Regions from separate parts of the Homo sapiens genome. Here region 2 is linked to region 1. The links come from fine-mapping of genetic effects on gene expression. Tissue or cell type: whole blood. Region 1 holds a variant in brackets; the other region holds the start of a gene. All regions are shown on one strand. Distances are between the middles of the regions.

What was found. PIP is the estimated chance that this variant, and not a neighbour inherited with it, causes the effect.
Region 2: MLF2 starts here. The variant in region 1 is fine-mapped to the expression of MLF2 in whole blood (TOPMed, PIP above 0.99).

What each region holds. Positions count from the first base shown.
Region 1 is chr12:6,779,993-6,788,181 of GRCh38, forward strand. It overlaps the pseudogene RN7SL380P. Among named protein-coding and RNA genes, the nearest start is that of CD4, 5.4 kb to the right of the region's middle. RefSeq lists a silencer at 6,791-7,085. The variant C/G (reference allele first, on the strand shown) is at 5,006.
Region 2 is chr12:6,748,583-6,756,754 of GRCh38, forward strand. It overlaps MLF2 (myeloid leukemia factor 2), which reads right to left and starts at 4,559. Exons shown (of 9, transcript NM_001382226.1): 1 at 4,357-4,559; 2 at 3,703-3,780; 3 at 3,343-3,472; 4 at 3,059-3,094; 5 at 2,131-2,184; 6 at 1,595-1,723; 7 at 1,266-1,425; 8 at 188-400. The coding sequence starts at 3,752. The coding sequence ends at 213. RefSeq lists a silencer at 4,456-4,695 and enhancers at 4,866-4,915, 4,946-5,115.

The sequences.
Region 1 (8,189 bases):
CCGTGTGCAAAAAGACACAAAAAGACAGACCTGAGGACATGTCCCTGCAGAGACACAATAGTCACTCATTAGAGACAGACGATGAAGAAGGTGACACCTTTGTTCTGTGCAGAGCCTTAGGTAGAGGGGGGACCCTCTGAAGCCTGAACAATGAACCATTTACAGCAATCTGAGGTTCTGAGCCTCAGGATGGTGATGACTCTTGCCTTGTCACTGGCAGAGAAACACTGGCACAGGAAGGAGGAAGCTCTGGCCCTGCCAGAGATGATCACACTGCAAAAGGAAGTCTTGAAGTCCTTTTAGAAGCTTCCAGGCCAGGTGTCATGGCTTATGCCTGTAATCTCAGCACTTTGGGAGGCGGAGGCAGAAGGATTGCTTGAGCCCAGGAGTTCGAGACCAGCCTGGGCAGTATAGTGAGACCTCATCTCTAAAAAAAAAAAAAAAAAGTTAGTTGGGCATGCTGGTACGCCCCTGTGGTCCCAGCTATTTGGGAGGTTGAGGTGGGAGGATCACCTAAGCCTGGGAGGTTGAGGCTGCAGTGAGCCATAATCGTGCCACTATACTCCAGCCTGGGTGACAGAGTGAGATCCTGTCTCAAAAACAAAAAACAAGAAGCCTCCAAAGCATCGTTCCTACCCTTCGCTGCTGCTCAGAGACTCCTCAGCTCCAGCCCAGGACCCTGCTCCCCACAGCCTTAGTGGAAGCCCTGATATTTTAATAGGGCAGGGGTTTCCTGGAAAGTTCTGTGGGTGGCATTTTTCCTTTTTACTAGCTAACATCCTATGCCCTTTGGGCTTATGAGAGTAGTCATCGAAGATTCACTGAGGCCTATGCGGGGACTTCCCCATGCTCTTTCATAAAGGGGACAGGGAGGGGACAGAGGCAGAACGAAGGGCCTCCTTTTTCCTTTACCCCTTAGAGAAGAGCAAAGGGCAGAAGGAAGAAAGGGCATATGGGCTGCATTCCGTGAGTGCTTCTCTGTGGGGTCTCTCCTCAGGGTGACATTCTGCTCCCACTCCTCTTCCCACAGCCCCCCACTCTCCGTCTGGCAGGATAATCTCCAGCCCTTTTCCTGTCCTCCAAAGGCCCCTAGGGAGCTTGGTTAATTCATTTGGCTTCTCCAGGTTGATCTGTAAACCAGTGTTCCAGGCTGCGGTCCTGGAGGGGAAGGAGCATCAGGAGGCCACGAGCTCAGGGAGCTTCAGTGGGTGGGTGGGTGGGAATCATCTCAGCTCCTTGTTAAGAAGGAAGGGGGGTGCGTGAGTTACCTATTGGCGTATAACAAACAAATTACCCTAAAACTTAGTAATTTAAAATAATAAGCTGGGTGTGGTGGCTCACACTGGTAATCCCAACACTTTGGGAGACTGAGGCAGGAGGATTGCTTGAGGCCGGGAGTGTGAGACCAGCCTGGGTGACTTAGTGAGATCACACTTCTACTTTTTTTTTTTTTTTGAGACAGAGTCTCACTCTGTCACCCAGGCTGGAGTGCAGTGGCTTGATCTCGGCTCACTGCAACCTCCATCTCCCGGGCTCAAGCGATTCTCCTGCCTCAGCCTCCCAAGTAGCTGGGACTACAGGTGCATACCACCACACCCTGCTAATTTTTGAATTTTTGTATTTTAATTAATAATTAATAAATTATTTTTGAGACAGAGTTTTGCTTTTGTCGCCCAGGCTGGAGTGCAGTTTGGTGCCATCTCGGCTCACTGCAAGCTCCGCCTCTCGGGTTCAAGCAATTCTCCTGCCTCAGCCTCTGGAGTAGCTGGGACTACAGGCGCCAGCCACCACGCCCGGCTAACTTTCTGTGTTTTTAGTAGAGACGGGGTTTCACTGTGTTAGCTAGGATGGGTCTGGATCTCCTGACCTCGTGATCCGCCTGCCTCGGCCTCCCAAAGTGCTGGGATTACAGGCGTGAACCACCACACCCAGCCTACCATTTTTTTTTCTTTTTGAATTTAAAAATGAGCTGGGCACGGTGGCATGCACCTGTGGTCCTAGTTATTCAGGAGGCTGAGGGAGAAGAATCACTGGAGGCTAGGATTTCCAGGCTGTAGTGAGCCATGATTGTGCTATTTCACTCCAGCTTGGGTGACAGGGTGAGATCCTGTGTCTAAAAAGAATAATAACAATAATAATAAACATTATCTCACACAACGAGGAATCCAGGAGCAGTCTTGCTGAGTAGTTCTGGCACAGGGTTGCTCATGAGGTTGCTGCTGAGGTGAGGGTCAGGTCTGGAGCCATCTGAAGGCTGGGATGGGGCTGGAGATTCTGCCTCCAAGACAGCTCACTCGGGAGGCTGTCGGCCAGAGGCCTTAACTCCTCCCTGTGTGGGTGTCTTTATGGGGCCTCTCACAACACGACACAGCAACTGGCTTCCCCCAGAGGGACAGCGTGGAAAAGACAAAAGCTACCACATCTTTATTTCAAGATTAGATTTGATCTTGAAAGCAACGTGCCATAATTTCTGCCCTATTCTATTGATCACAGAGACCAACCTGGTGCAAGCAGGAGGGGGCAATGCAAGGGTGTGAACTGAGGGAGACAGGAGTCACTGGGGGCCATCTTGCAGCCTGGCTGTCAGAGTGGGGAGCAGTGCCTGAAACAGAGATAGGCCAAGAGACGGGAAGGGACGTCTCTGAGCATCTCCATCCCCAGCCCTCTTCTCTTGTCCACTCTCCAGAAGTTCTGGAAGCCAAGTGAGGTCCAGGGCCTTGGCAAGTCGAGTGTGTGAGGTAGGAGGCCATACTGTGCACATTCAGCCTTGGAGTCGGGTTTGCCAGCGGTTCCCCTACCCCTGACGTGGTCTTCTCAGCTCCATAGTGCAGAGGAGGAGCCTCTGCAGGCCCAGAAATTTCCCTGCCCACCTCCCCTACCAGGTAGAGATGTTAGGGTTCAGGCCTGAGCCCCTGCTGCTATCCCTCCTTCAAAGGAGGAGATCAAGGAGCTTAGGGTCCCCCGCACAGGCCCACCCCAGGGTGGGGTTCTTCCTTTGAAGGGAATTGCTTTGGGGTGGGGTCGGTTCTATCTGCTCCACTCTGTGGCTGACAGTTTCTCCAAGGGGCTGCAGGTGTCAGCTGTCTGAGCCCGGGCTGAGCTCTGAAACGTGCCTACTCAAACTTCCCGTGGGGTAGGGGAGGCCCAGAACCACCCTCTGAGAGTGGCAAAAAGTGGTCCTGGAGCCAGGGGAAATGTGGATGGGGTAGAGATGGCATCGATGCTCCTAGACTTTGCTTCCCAGAGAACAGCCCCAAAGACCCCTCCCCTGCTCCCCATCCTCAAACCCTGCCCCCAGCCCCCTTTGCAGAGGGCGTCAGTGCTGCCAAAGATACTTCTGGTAAGGAGGCCACCGCAGAGTTGCACCTGGGGCTTTCAACTTTCCTGCAACCCTGGCTGCCCTAGGCCTCTCAGATCATCCAGTCTCCAGCACTCTGTCTGTAGCCTCTGACACCGGCTTCTCTCTCTTCCCCATCACTCCTTCCCCTGGCTTGGCCTCCTCCCGTTCTACAGCCTAGAGAGGCAGGATACATGCAGCAAAAATAGCCTCTGGAACTCCCCCTGTTCCATGCTTTCAGACATGTGATGGGGGCAGACAGCTTGACTTCCATTTCTTCTTCTGTAAAGTAAGGATAGTAACAGCAACACCTACCAAAAAGGTCTGGCATGTACAAATGAATGTGAAAGTGCTTGGAAAATGGAAAACCACTCTAGAGATGTGAGGACCATGGCACTGCTGAGCCTCAGAAGCTCCAGGTGAGGCAGTGGGCCTCATACCTCCCTCCACTGCTAAGGGAGAAGACTTCTCTTAGCTGTCATCCTGGCCTTTCTTCTTCTTTTTTTATTTTTTATTTTTTTTTTAGAGGTGGGTTCTCGTTATGTTGCCCAGGCTGGTGCGCAGTGGCTATTTACAGGCCCGATCCCACTGCTGATTAGCATGGGTAGCATGGAAATTGTGACCCATTGTGTGTCCGGCCTGGGCTGGCTCACCCCTCCTCAGGCAATCTGGTGGTTCCCCACTCCCGGGAGGTCACCACGCTGAAGCTGAACTCAGTGCAGACACCTGATCTGCATAGTGCACTACAGCCCAGAACTCCTGGGCTCAAGGCATCCTCTTGCTTCAGCCTCCTGAGTAGCTGAGACTACAGGCACTCGGCACCACGCCCCGCCTGGACCTTCTTTTTTTGGTTTGTTTGTTTTTGTTTTTGTTTTTGTATTTTTAGTAGAGATGGGGTTTCACCGTGTTAGCCGGGATGGTCTGGATCTCCTGACATCACAATCCGCCCGCCTCGGCCTCCCAAAGTGCTGGGATTACAGGCACGAGCCACCATGCCTGGTCCTGGACCTTCTTAATGCAGAGGAGAGGCAGTGCAATGAGGGGGACCACCCAGAAACTGGGGTCCAAGCGGGTGAATTCAAATCCCGGTTCCACCAGCTGTGGTTACTAGCTCTGAGACCTTTGACAACTGAAACTCTTCGGCTAGGCACAGTGTGACTCATGCCTGTAATCCCAGCACTTTGGGAGGCTGAGGTGGGTGGATTGCTTGAACCTAGGAGTTTGAGATCAGCCTGGGAAGCATAGCAAAACCCCATCTCTAGGGGAAAAAAAAATTTAGCTGGGTACAGTGGCACATGCCTGTAGTTCCAGCTACTTGAGAGGCTAAGGCGGGAGGATAGATTGAGCCCTGGAGGTTGAGGCTGCAGTGAGCTGTGACCGTGCCACTGCACTGCAGCCTGGGTGACAGAACGAGACCTTGTCTAAGAAAACAAAAAACTCTTCAAGCCTCAGTTTCCTCATCTGTATGGCCTGGACAATAATACCTATGTCTTATCACTCTCATGAGGATTAAATAAAAGATACAACCACATAAAGCACACAACAATGCCAAATGTTTACTATAAACTCACCCTCTCTCTTCCTTTTTTCTTTTCCTGTTTGGAAACCCCAGAGAGAGAGCCAGGTTCTCAGGACCGTTGACTTCCAGGCCACAGACTCACAGAGCTG[C/G]AAGTTCTCACACCGTCCATCGGGTCTGGAATCTGCAAACCGGTGGGCCCAAAGCTAGAGCCAGCCCTTGGAATGCTCTGTTTGCTCTACCCAGTGTCACGACAAGTTGAAAAAATTTGTTACCAATATTAAAATCAGGAGGTATTACATAAATGTCTGGTTTTCACCTTCTCTAGAAATTTTGGCAGAGCAGGCAACTCTAGGCTCACATGCCAGTATAGCCTCTACGGTCAACTCAGACAGCTATGCAGGGAATGGCTGCCCTTAACTAGCTGAGGCAAGTACTCTCTGGTTTCCCCCAGTCCCTACCCTTCCCTTTTGGTCACCACCAGTGTACCTTTCTCATTTGCACTACCTAGGGGGCTCCTGTAAGCATTTACATTTGTAGCCCTGCTCTCCTGCTCTTGTCCATACTTCTCTATTTATCCATTCAAAAATTATTTGGCCTGGTGCAGTGGCTCACGCCTATAATCCCAGCACTTTGGGAGGCAGAGGCAGGAGAATCACTTGAGGTCAGGAGTTCGAGACCAGCCTGGCCAACATGGTGAAACCCTGTCTGTACTAAAAATACAAAAATTAGCCAGGCTTGGTGGCGCACGCCTGTAATCCCAGATACTCGGGAGTCTGAGGCAGGAGATTCGCTTGAACCTGGGAGGCGGAGGTTGCAGTGAGCCGAGATCACACCACTGCACTCGAGCCTCGGCGACAGAGCAAGACTCTGTTTCCAAAAAAAAAAGAAAAGAAAAAAGAAAAAAAAATATTATTCAATAGCCAGGAGTTGCAGGGAGTTAGAATGAGGAGTCAGTATTTAATGGGTACAGAGTTTCATTTGGGGAAGATGAAAAATTTCTAGATGGTTACACAACCATGTGAGTGTACTCAGTCCCACAGAGCAGTACATTAAAAAATGCCTAAAATGGCCGGGTGTGGTGACTCACACCTGTAATCCCAACACTTTGGGAGGCCAAGGTGAGCAGATCACTTGAGGTCAGGAATTCGAGACCAGCCTGGCCAACATGGTGAAACCCCGTCTTTACTAAAAATACAAAAATTAGCCAGGCGTGGTGGCGGGCACCTGTAGTCCCAGCTACTCGGGAGGCTGAGGCTGGAGAATCGCTTGAACCCAGGAGGTGGAGGTTGCAGTGAACCTAGATTGTGCCACTGCACTCCAGCCTGGGGGACAGAGTAAGACTCCGTCTTGGAAAAAAAAAAAAAAAAAGCTTAAAATGGAAAATCTTATGTTGCGTGTATTTTACCGCAATAAATTTAATATCAATAAAATTTAATATATTAGGAAAATATTAAACAAGCATTAAGGGTCTTCCAGGGCCAAGGCATCTGTGAGGGTGCTGGGAACATAGTGCTAACTAAGACAGACACGGTCACCGCTCTGGCCTGTGAGCTAGACACTAAGCAGCAAATAACTTCATTGCAACTGGAAAATTGCTACGAAGGGAGAAGCACAGGGGACTGGGAGATCTTATCACAAGGAAAACTGATTTCAACTGAGGAACCTGAGTATCCTCTGAGACTCTGGGGAGGAAGTCCTGTGCAGGAGAATGGTAGAGCAACAAAATATAAACAGCCCCAATCTTGGCCCTGGAGGACGGCGTGCTGCTCCCTCTCTTCTGCACCACCCACCTCCACACTTCCTACATGTGAAAAATAACTTCAATCTTGTTGAAGCCTCTATTATTTTGGGTTTTCTTTTGCTTGTAGCAGAACCCAGTGCTTACCGATAGACAATTCTCCCAGTTGAAAGAAGGTTCTTTTGTGATAAGATCTCCCAGCACCTTGTGCTTTTTCCTTTGTAGCGCTTGTCGAATTGTAATGAAGTTGTTCGTTGTTTAGTGTCTATGTCATAAGCTGGAGTGGTGACCATATCTGTCTTCTTCAACATCACATCCCCAGCTACCTAGCAGAGTGCCTTGGGCTGGTACACGCTTAACTACGTACATGAATGAATGGAGCAGGGCTCAAAACATCAATGCCTACCAGAGCCTGCCAGGTAATGTAAATGAGAAAAGCAGACTGGCTGTGAACAATAGGGAGGGTGTTTGCTTTCTAGTCTGAAGGAAGAAGGCCTGAGGAGGATACATTTTCCCCACTTTGAGGAGCAACTCTGAGGTTGCACCTAATACTTTCACTTCTATCTATTAACCAAAATTGAGTCACTTGGACACATCCAGCTGTGAGGGAGGCTGGGAAGTATATTTTAAATCTGGGTAGCTAAGAGCTCAGCTAAAAATTGAGGGTTCTATTACCAAGAAGGAGAAAATAGACTTTGGGGACAGCTAAAGCGATAGCTGAGATCTGAAGAATGAATAAAAATTACCTAGATCAGTGGTTCTCAGAGTGAAGTGTGGCCTGCAGACCCTTGGGAGTCCCTGAGACCCTTTCAGGGGATCTTCAAGGTCAAGCTATTTTCATAAAAAAATACAGGATGTTATTTTCCTTTGTCACTATGTTGACATTGCAATAATGTTGCAAAAACAATCTGGATAAAACTGCTGCCTTAGCATAAATGAAGGCAGTGGTGCCAAACCATATGATAGTCATTGCATTCTTCACTGCCAGGTACTTACAGTAAAAAAAGAAAAAAAATTAATGCCACTTTTACTTAAGAATGCCCTTAATGAGGCCGGGCGCAGTGGCTCGTGCCTGTAATCCCAGCACTTTGGGAGGCCGAAGCGGGCAGATCAGGATCACCTGAGGTCAGGAGTTCAAGACCAGCCTGGCCAACGAGTGAAACCCTGTCTCTACAAAAATACAAAAATTAGCCAGGCATGTTGGCGGGTGCCTGTAATCCCAGCTACTCGGGAGGCTGAGGCAGGAGAATGGCTTGAATCCAGGAGGCGGAGGTTGTAGTAAGCCGAAATCATGCTGCTGCACTTCAGCCTGGATGACAAAGCAAGACTCTGTCTCAAAAAAAAAAAAAAAAAAAAGAGAGATCAAGACCATCCTGGGCAACATGGTGAAACCCCATCTCTACTAAAGATACAAAAATTAGCTGGGCATTGTGGCGCATGCCTGTAGCCCCAGCTACTTGGGAGGCTGAGGCAGGAGAATTGCTTGAACCCGGGAGGCAGAGGTTGCAGTGAGCCAAGATCACGCCACTGCACTCTAGCCTGGGCAACAGAGTGAGACTCCCTCTCAAAAAAAAAAAAAAAAAAAAATATATATA
Region 2 (8,172 bases), 31 kb before region 1:
GGAAGAAAAAACTTACGTTAAGAGCCAGGAGTTGGGGTTTAATCCCCTATGTCAGTGAGAACATTGTTCTCTTTCCATGTCAACTTGTACTACCAAAGGCAGCTCCTGCGGGAGCCTGAACTGAGCCTGCCTTGCAGCCGAGGACCGTCCGCAGGTGCACCCCACCCTCCTTACTCCTGATACTTACAAGAGAGGCTGAGGGCCCGGGGCCCTCACCAGTCATAGCGGCGGGACTGTCGGGAAGGGGAGTCCTCAGGTCCCTGGATGGCCAGGCGGGGAGGCCCCTCCGCCCTTCGTCCCCCAGCCCCTGAGGACTCAAGCCGCCGAAACTCCAGGGGACGCTGCTGCCGGAATCGGGAGGTCTCCCGCCGCCACTCGTCATCAAACGCTGCGGCCTCACCTGGAAAGGACAGAGCGGACATGAGGCCTGTGTGCGGCCTGGCTCCTGGAGGCCGATGTGCGAGCGAGCCACAGCTTTTCGGGCCAAAGCGGCGAAGGCTGAGTGTGCGTGCAGGGATGGGTGGGGTGGCAATTCCCTTAGCTCTTTTGGTTTCTGCACGGTCCCAGGAAGCCACCGGTAGGCGTAAGGTGGCCTACTGGAGGAAGAAATCAGAATGGGATTATTCTTCAGTTCAGGTTCACAGTCCTATGTGCACACTAGGTACTTAATAATTGCGGATTTGAAAAAGATAAAGAGGGGAGAAAGAAACGGATCAAGGTGGAGAAGGGTGTAACACTATCAATACGGAACTTCAGGGACAAAGTAGGCCCCTCACAAAGACACCGCCAGCACCTGACTCCGCCCGAGCGGAGGAGGCTCCAAGTGCGGTAAGAATATGGGACTGACAGTTGGGTGCAGTGGCTCATGCCTGTAATCCCGGCACTTTGGGAGGCCAACGGTCGGTGGGTGGATCACAAGGTCAGGAGTTCGAGAACGGCCTGCCCAACATGGTGAAACCCTGTCTCTACTAAAAATACAGAAATTAGCTGGGCGTGGTGGCACATGCCTGTAGTTCCAGCTACACGGGAGGCTGAGGCAGGAGAATTGCTTAAACCCGGGAGGCGGAGGTTGCAGTGAGCTGAGATCGCGCCACTGCACTCCAGCCTGGGCACCTGGGCAACAAGAGCGAGACTCCATCTCAAAAAAAAAAAAAAAGGAATATGGGGCTGACCCAGAGCTTTGCCCCAGAAGTGTCTATGTGTTAGGGATGTCCACGGGAACCGGGTTAGGGGCTGCCAGCCAGGAAGCGGGAGGGAAGGCTCACTCTCATCCAGGTTGATATAGTCCTGCCGCTCCTCCTGGTCCCCCGTGCGATGGTTTCGGGAGCGCTGGAGGATGTGAGCCCTGTCCCGGATGTGATGCCCAATGGACATCTGCTCCAGTCCACTGTCTGAATCCCGAACAGTCCTCCGTGTCTCCCGGATCTGGGATGAGGCAGAACGTGGCACACTCAGCCGCCCCTTCCAAAGCCCTGCCTATACCATCTCAGGATAAACACACCACACACAACCCAATCCGGAAAAAAGCAGCCAGGGTTTCTGGCGGTGCCGCTCAATCCTACCTTCTCTGGGACAGGAGGGCTCCCCAACTCACCCCGCCTGGTGCCGAGCGCATCTCTGATGTCTCTTGGTAGACCTTGGGGGCACCATCACCCGTATTGGAGTAGGAGATGACAGTGGAAGATGAGAAGGTCTGGCAATTGCCTCCAGCTGTCATGTGTTCCTGAGGACAGGGTAGGTAGGGGAGGGCTGAATGGGGAGGCATCACCCCTGGTGAAGGGATTTCACCCTTCAGCTGCCTGTTCTAGCCTGTATCTTTCTCACAAAATGCAAGAACTGAAAAAACATCAGGCCTCATCATTACCCTCCCAAATTCCTCTGAGTCCAACCACGAGCAAGAAGGACCTGAAGAGACAGGGCCTTAATTGTATGCTACGTAAGAGAGCTGCTGCCGGCTGCTTCAGGCAGGCATGACAGCAGGTACAGGGTCCCAAGGCTCTCTGGTTCAATTACTTTATCCAGTACTTTACCCTTCACTAGCATACTGTTTCCCTCTTGCCTTAGAGGATGCAAGGTGTTGTCAGCCATCACTGAGAGCAAGGCCGGGGAAGGGTATGGGGCAAGTCTCACCATGTTTCCAATCATGTCATTCATCATCCCAAACATGTCCATGAAACCACCCGACTGGAGGAAAGAGATGGAAAACAGAGTCAGGAAAGCAAAGTCAGTGTTCAGAGTTGATCCTGTTTAGGAACCCACAACCCACATGGCTGCACATTTCCTTTCTCTTCTTCCTTCACATCTAGCAAGTTCTCTTTCTCATTCTGTTAAAATAACCAGAATACTCATATTTCTCCTCCTGTGAACTGCTGACCCCTTCCTCAGTCTCTGTGACTGCTGTGATCCAATTTTCCTTCTCCTGCTTGCTATATTCCCCCCATCTTTAGGAAGCAAGCCAAAGTAATGGATTCTAAACTCTAAAGAGGTAAGGCATGAAATTGTTAAAACCTACCAAAAAATCATCTCTAGTTGGCCCTTTAACTGCACTTCCCTCCTCAAAAGAACAAATTTTGCTAGACAATTACATCTTCCTAATGCGTATGAACTTCTAGGAGTACAACAGTTAATAACATCTTTTCTTTTTTTTTTTTTTGAGATGGAGTCTGGCTCTGTTGCCCAGGCTGGAGGGCAGTGGCGCAGTCTCGGCTCACTGCAATCTCCACCTCCCGGATTCAAGAGTAGCTGGGACTACAGGTGTGTGCCACCATGCCTGGCTTTTTTGGTATTTTTAGTAGAGACGGGGTTTCACCATGTTGGCCAGTCTGGTCTCGAACTTCTGACTGCAAGTGATCACCCATCTCGGCCTCCCAACAAGAGTTTAACACCTTTAACCCACAGGGCTCCTAGTACCCAACAGGCTCAGAGCTTTGTGAATGCCATAAAAAGAGAAGATTCTGGGGTTACTCATGAAACTATTCCTAAGAGGCACATTTGGGAATAATATCTAAGGGTAGAGAGTGTGTCTGAGATGGAAGGACACAGGGAGATAAAGACTCACCATTCCCAGCATCCCAAAGGGGGAGACAGCTCCAGCCTACAGGAACACATGAGGAACAGAAATTAGAGACCACATCCTATCTCTTTACAATCCCAAACCAGGCCCATGGCCTCAATTTTTTTCCATCCTCTCAAAAGGGAGTCACAAAGCCCTTTTTCCTGACCCTTTCCCCAACTCCTAGAGCATTTCACTTGCTCAGTTGGCTGTAGTGCAAGAAAATTAAGTGCTTTCCTAACTAACCTCCAACCTTTCTTTGGGTCTCAGGTGTGTCTCAGCATCATTACCTGCTGCATCCGGCGGCTGGCAGGCCTGGTCCCTGGCATGTTGCCATCTGTGATGCTGAGGAAGGGGCTATATCCAAAGCCACCTGACAACATACGGCTCATATGCTGACGGTGAATAGCAAAGGGATCCCTGTGGAGTGAGCACATAGTATGGATGGCAGAAGCGCCAAACTGTCAATCCCTCCACCACCCTGCAAAAAAATACGCACAGAGCAACAGTGGCACCGATGCCTACTTCCTGCTAGGTAGGAGCTAGGTATCCAGCCAGTTCCAACCATTCCTAGCAATGGGAACCCCGATGTCTGCCTGAACTGCTCAGAGACCTGGAGTGGGAGAGCTTGAGGGGGAGGGAATACTCACATCAGGAACATGGGATCCTCAGGCTCCACGTCCCTCATGAAGCGGAACATCCTGATCTCAGCTCCAGGGGGCTCCACACTGGAAAGATATGGAAGCTCAGATACTTGGAGGTGGCCAGGGTTTTGCACACCCACTCAGTGTGGGGACTCTCAGAGCACTGTCCTTTCCAAATCCTGTAACTGACCCCCTAAACTCCAGGGAGACCCTACTCCAGGTGTTCCACACAACCCTCTAGGGAGGGAAGGGCTCTTCAAACCTCTTTCTCAATTAGGGCCATGGAAAATTTTTCCAACCCTCTCGGTTTTTCCCTCCCCCACTCAGAGCCATCCTCTTCCCAAAGCTCTGGCCGGTAGCATACTCTCCCCTCCTCCCGCCGACGACACCGTTCTAGATGAGAATGCCAAGTGCAGGTCCTCCGCCCCATTAATGACCCCAGTCACCCCGCCCCCTCCTTACACTCAGGCCTCCCCCAGGCGGGCCTCACTAAGCCCCCCGCGCCTGTCTGCGACTCCTCTAGCTCCCGCCTCCCCGCCAGGCGAGCAGGAGAGGTAGGCCTGAGCCTCTCCTCTCCCCACCCCGCATCCCGGGCTCCCAGACCCTGCAGCCCCGTGGGCCCGCTCCCGTCCGGGGCTGCCAGCTCTGCCCGAGCCTCACCAGTGCCCGATTCGGGCTCAGCGGCCCATCCGGCCGGTTTCGCTTCCCGGTACGCTGCAGGGTCAGGGTCGCGGCCCGGAACGTGGGGATTGGTCCGGGCTTGAGCTCCTCGGCCTTCCACGCCGCCTCCTCCCACAGCTGCCACCTCCGTACGGCCCCCTCGGCCAACGGAGCCCGAACCTCGGCCAGGCCCGGGCGGAAGTGACGTCACGATAGACCCGCCCACCCGGGGCCGGGCCGTGGGAGCCCCGCCCCCTGGCGCGGGTGGTGAGATGGCTGGGGCCGAGTCCCAGGGGCGCCGGGGCCATGGGCCAAGCTCAGGGGAGCAGAGCCTGAGGCCGAGAGGGGTCCCCTGGGCACGAAGAAGGGGAGCTCATTAGTAACCTCGATTTGGGTTCTGTGGACTGGAAGAGGCTCCCATAAGGCAGGGGAGGAGAAGGAGAAGAGGAATCCATTCTTCGGGAGGGACCGGGTTGGAGGTTGAACCTGGGGGCGCAGTGCAGCACGTTCTCTCTCCCTCCTCAAGGGGAAACTGGAGGACGAGGGGCAGATGCCCCTTGGGGAGAGGCGGGCGCTCTGTGGGCGACGAGGCGGGGCGGATCCCTGGGGGGAGCTTTAAGCCGACTCTACTGGAGAAGCAGTCTACCCTAGAGGGAGGATGGGCAGTTTTCCTGCGGGGGAGGCGCTTGGGCCTGTCCCCGCTTGAGGAGGAGCGTTCCTGGCAGGGCGGAGTCCCCGGAGTGACGCAGAGGAGGTGAAACTCTCCAGCCCAGATCTAGTTCGGGCTTCAGAAAGTCGGATGGGGCAGAGGATCCAGGTTGGGGGGTTGGCCGCCAGATGGCGCTCCTCGGCCAGGCTGGAACCGGAGGCCCTTGAGAACTCGCGTTGGAGAGGGACCTGGACCCTCCCCCGTTACCCATCTGTGAAGGGTTGGACTGGGGAAAGGCTACAGTTCTGAATCTATTAGTTTAATGCCACTCTCCCCTTCCTTTTACTCTAATTCTTGTGTCCTCAAGAGCTCCCAGTCCTGCACTGACCTTTCTTGGTTGCTTTCTTAGGTCAAAGGTCTAAAGTTTGGGGGAACAAAGGAGTGGAGAGCTCAGTTAACCTGGATCACCCAGGGGAGGAGCTAAAACGGGGCCCAGAAGACCTGCCTCCAAGGCCAGAGACTGATACTTTGACATACTAAATGTCTTGCATAAAATCTGGCTCTGCTGGAGAGAAGGGCCTTCCCCTTTGGGGTCAGGGCATTTGGACTGTCTAGGATGGACTTTAACCAGACTCATCCAAACTCCAGCTTTCCCTGGTTCTTTACTCTGGCTTTTAGCCATATTAGTGCTGTGTGGAGTCTGACCCAATGAGAAAGACTTGTTCCCAGTAATTCCCTGGGGGAGAAAGAGGGGGTCCCTGGTGACTCAGGAAAAGGTGCTAGGAACAGGGCTTCTCACGTTTCTTTGGACTTGATCATTATTAAAGAGGAAAAAACAATAATAGAGACAGGGAGCAGAGATAGATAATTAAGATATAAGCTGACAGACTGGCAAGTCAAAGGAAAACAGACAGAATACAAGTAAATTTGTTTTTCATTGCTATTTCTGGGGGAAGAGACTTAGTAAAATCTTCTGTCTTCCAGATCTCTGCACTTCCCACCATGCAACTTCCCCTTATCCTCTTGCCCCAAATGAAAGCAGTTTGACATGTGATCAAGAGTTGTCCCAGTAAAGGTTCTGTGGCTGAAACTTAACTAAAGAGATCCTATCCATTTTTTTTCTTTTGTCCTCTCCTCCTTCTAAAGCAAGTTCTTTATTGTCCAGCCAATCAACAAATGTTTAAGGCCTGGCGCAGTGGCTCACGCCTGTAATCCCAACACTTTGGGAGGCTGAGGCGGGCACATCACAAGATCAGGAGTTCGAGACCAGCCTGACCAACAAAGTGAAATCCAGTCTCTACTAAAAATACAAAAATTAGCTGGGCGTGGTGGCACATGTCTGTAATCCCAGCTACTCAGGAAGCTGAGGCAGGAGAATCGCTTGAACCCAGGAGATGGAGATTGCAGTGAGCCAAGATTGTGCCACTGCACTCCAGCCTGGGCGACAGTGAGACTCCGTCTCAAAACAACAACTACAACAAAAACGAAAATTAGCCGGGCATGGTAGCAAGCACCTGTAATCCCACAAGTAGGCTGAGGCAGGAGAATCACTTGAGCCTGGGAAGTGGAGGTTGCAGTGAGCCGAGATCACGCCATTGCACTCCAGCCTGGGGGATGGAGCGAGACTCTGTTCCAAAAAAAATAAAAATAAAAATAAAAAGCAAATGTTTAATGAGGCCTGGAACTGTCCTAGGTACATTGTATTAAGCATACATACAAAATATAAGACACGGTCTCTGCCAATTGAAGGCATACAGTCTTGTAGCCACCTTTTTCTTTTTTAGTTACCTGTTATCCGTTTTTTTGTTTTTTTTTTAATTAAATTGTAGAGATGGGGAGTTTCATCATGTTGCCCAGGCTGGTCTCAAACTCCTGAGCTCAAGTGATTCGCCCAAACTTGGCCTCCCAAAGTGCTGGGATTACAGACATGAACCACTGTGCTCAGCCACCTGCTATCCTTTACGTACCGCCTTTAGGTGCCTAGAGTCCTTTCTCTTCTTCCTTCCAAAACTTAAGAATCTGCTGGCCAGGCGCGGTAGCTCACGCCTGTAATCCCAGCACTTTGGGAGGCCGAGGTGGTTGGATCACTTGTGGTCAGGAGTTCGAGACTAGCCTGGCCAACCTGGCCAACATGGCAAAACCCTGTCTCTACTAAAAATACAAAAAAATTAGCCAGGCATAGTGGCACGTGCCTGTACTCCCAGCTACTTGGGAGGCTGAGGCATGAGAATCGCTTGAACCCAGCAGCAGAGGTTGCAATGAGCCGAGATCTTGCCACTGCACTCCAGCCTGGGCGACAGAGCAAGGCTCCGTCTCAATAAAAAAAAGAAAAAAAAAAAAGGAAATTGTTGGCCAGGCACAGTGACTCACACCTGTAATTCCAACACTTTGGGAAGCCAAGGCAGGAGGCTCGTTTGAGCCCTGGAGTTGGAGACCAGCCTGAGCAACATAGTGAGACGTTGTCTCTTCAGTAAAAAAAATTAGCCAGGTGTGGTGGTGTGTGCCTGTAGTCCCAGCTACTTGGGAGGCTGCGGTGGGAGGATTGCTTGAGCCATAATCACACCACTGCACTCCAGCCTGGGAGACAGAGCAAGGCCCTGTCTCTAAAAAAGAAAAAAAGAAAAAAAAAAAACCTCTTGAACAGGTGAGGATGAAAGAGCAAATGCAAGAGCCCATTTTCAGAGTTCTTGGAGACATACCATATAGGCAGTTGTCTACTCCAGGAATTAAAGGGATGTAATTTTGCAAGTAACCAGAGTTTGTGTCTGTCTTCCTTCTCCGGGTCTCTCCCTCTCCTTCATTTCCTTTCCTCTCTTCTCCTTCACTCTCTTCCTCTCTCCCTTCCTCCATCCCTCTTGTCTTTTCCCTCTCTCCCTCCCTCTTTTTTTTTTTTTTTTTTTTGAGACGGAGTCTCACTCTGTCGCCCAGGCTGGAGTGCAGTGGCACGATCTCGGCTCACTGCAAGCTCCGCCTCCCGGGTTCACGCCATTCTCCTACCTCAGCCTCCCGAGTAGCTGGGACTACAGGTGCCCGCACACCTGGCTAATTTTTTTATATTTTTAGTAGAGACAGGGTTTCACCGTGTTAGCCAGGATGGTCTTGATCTCCTGACCTCGTGATCTGCCCGCCTCAGCCTCCCAAAGTGCTGGGATTACAGGCATGAGCCA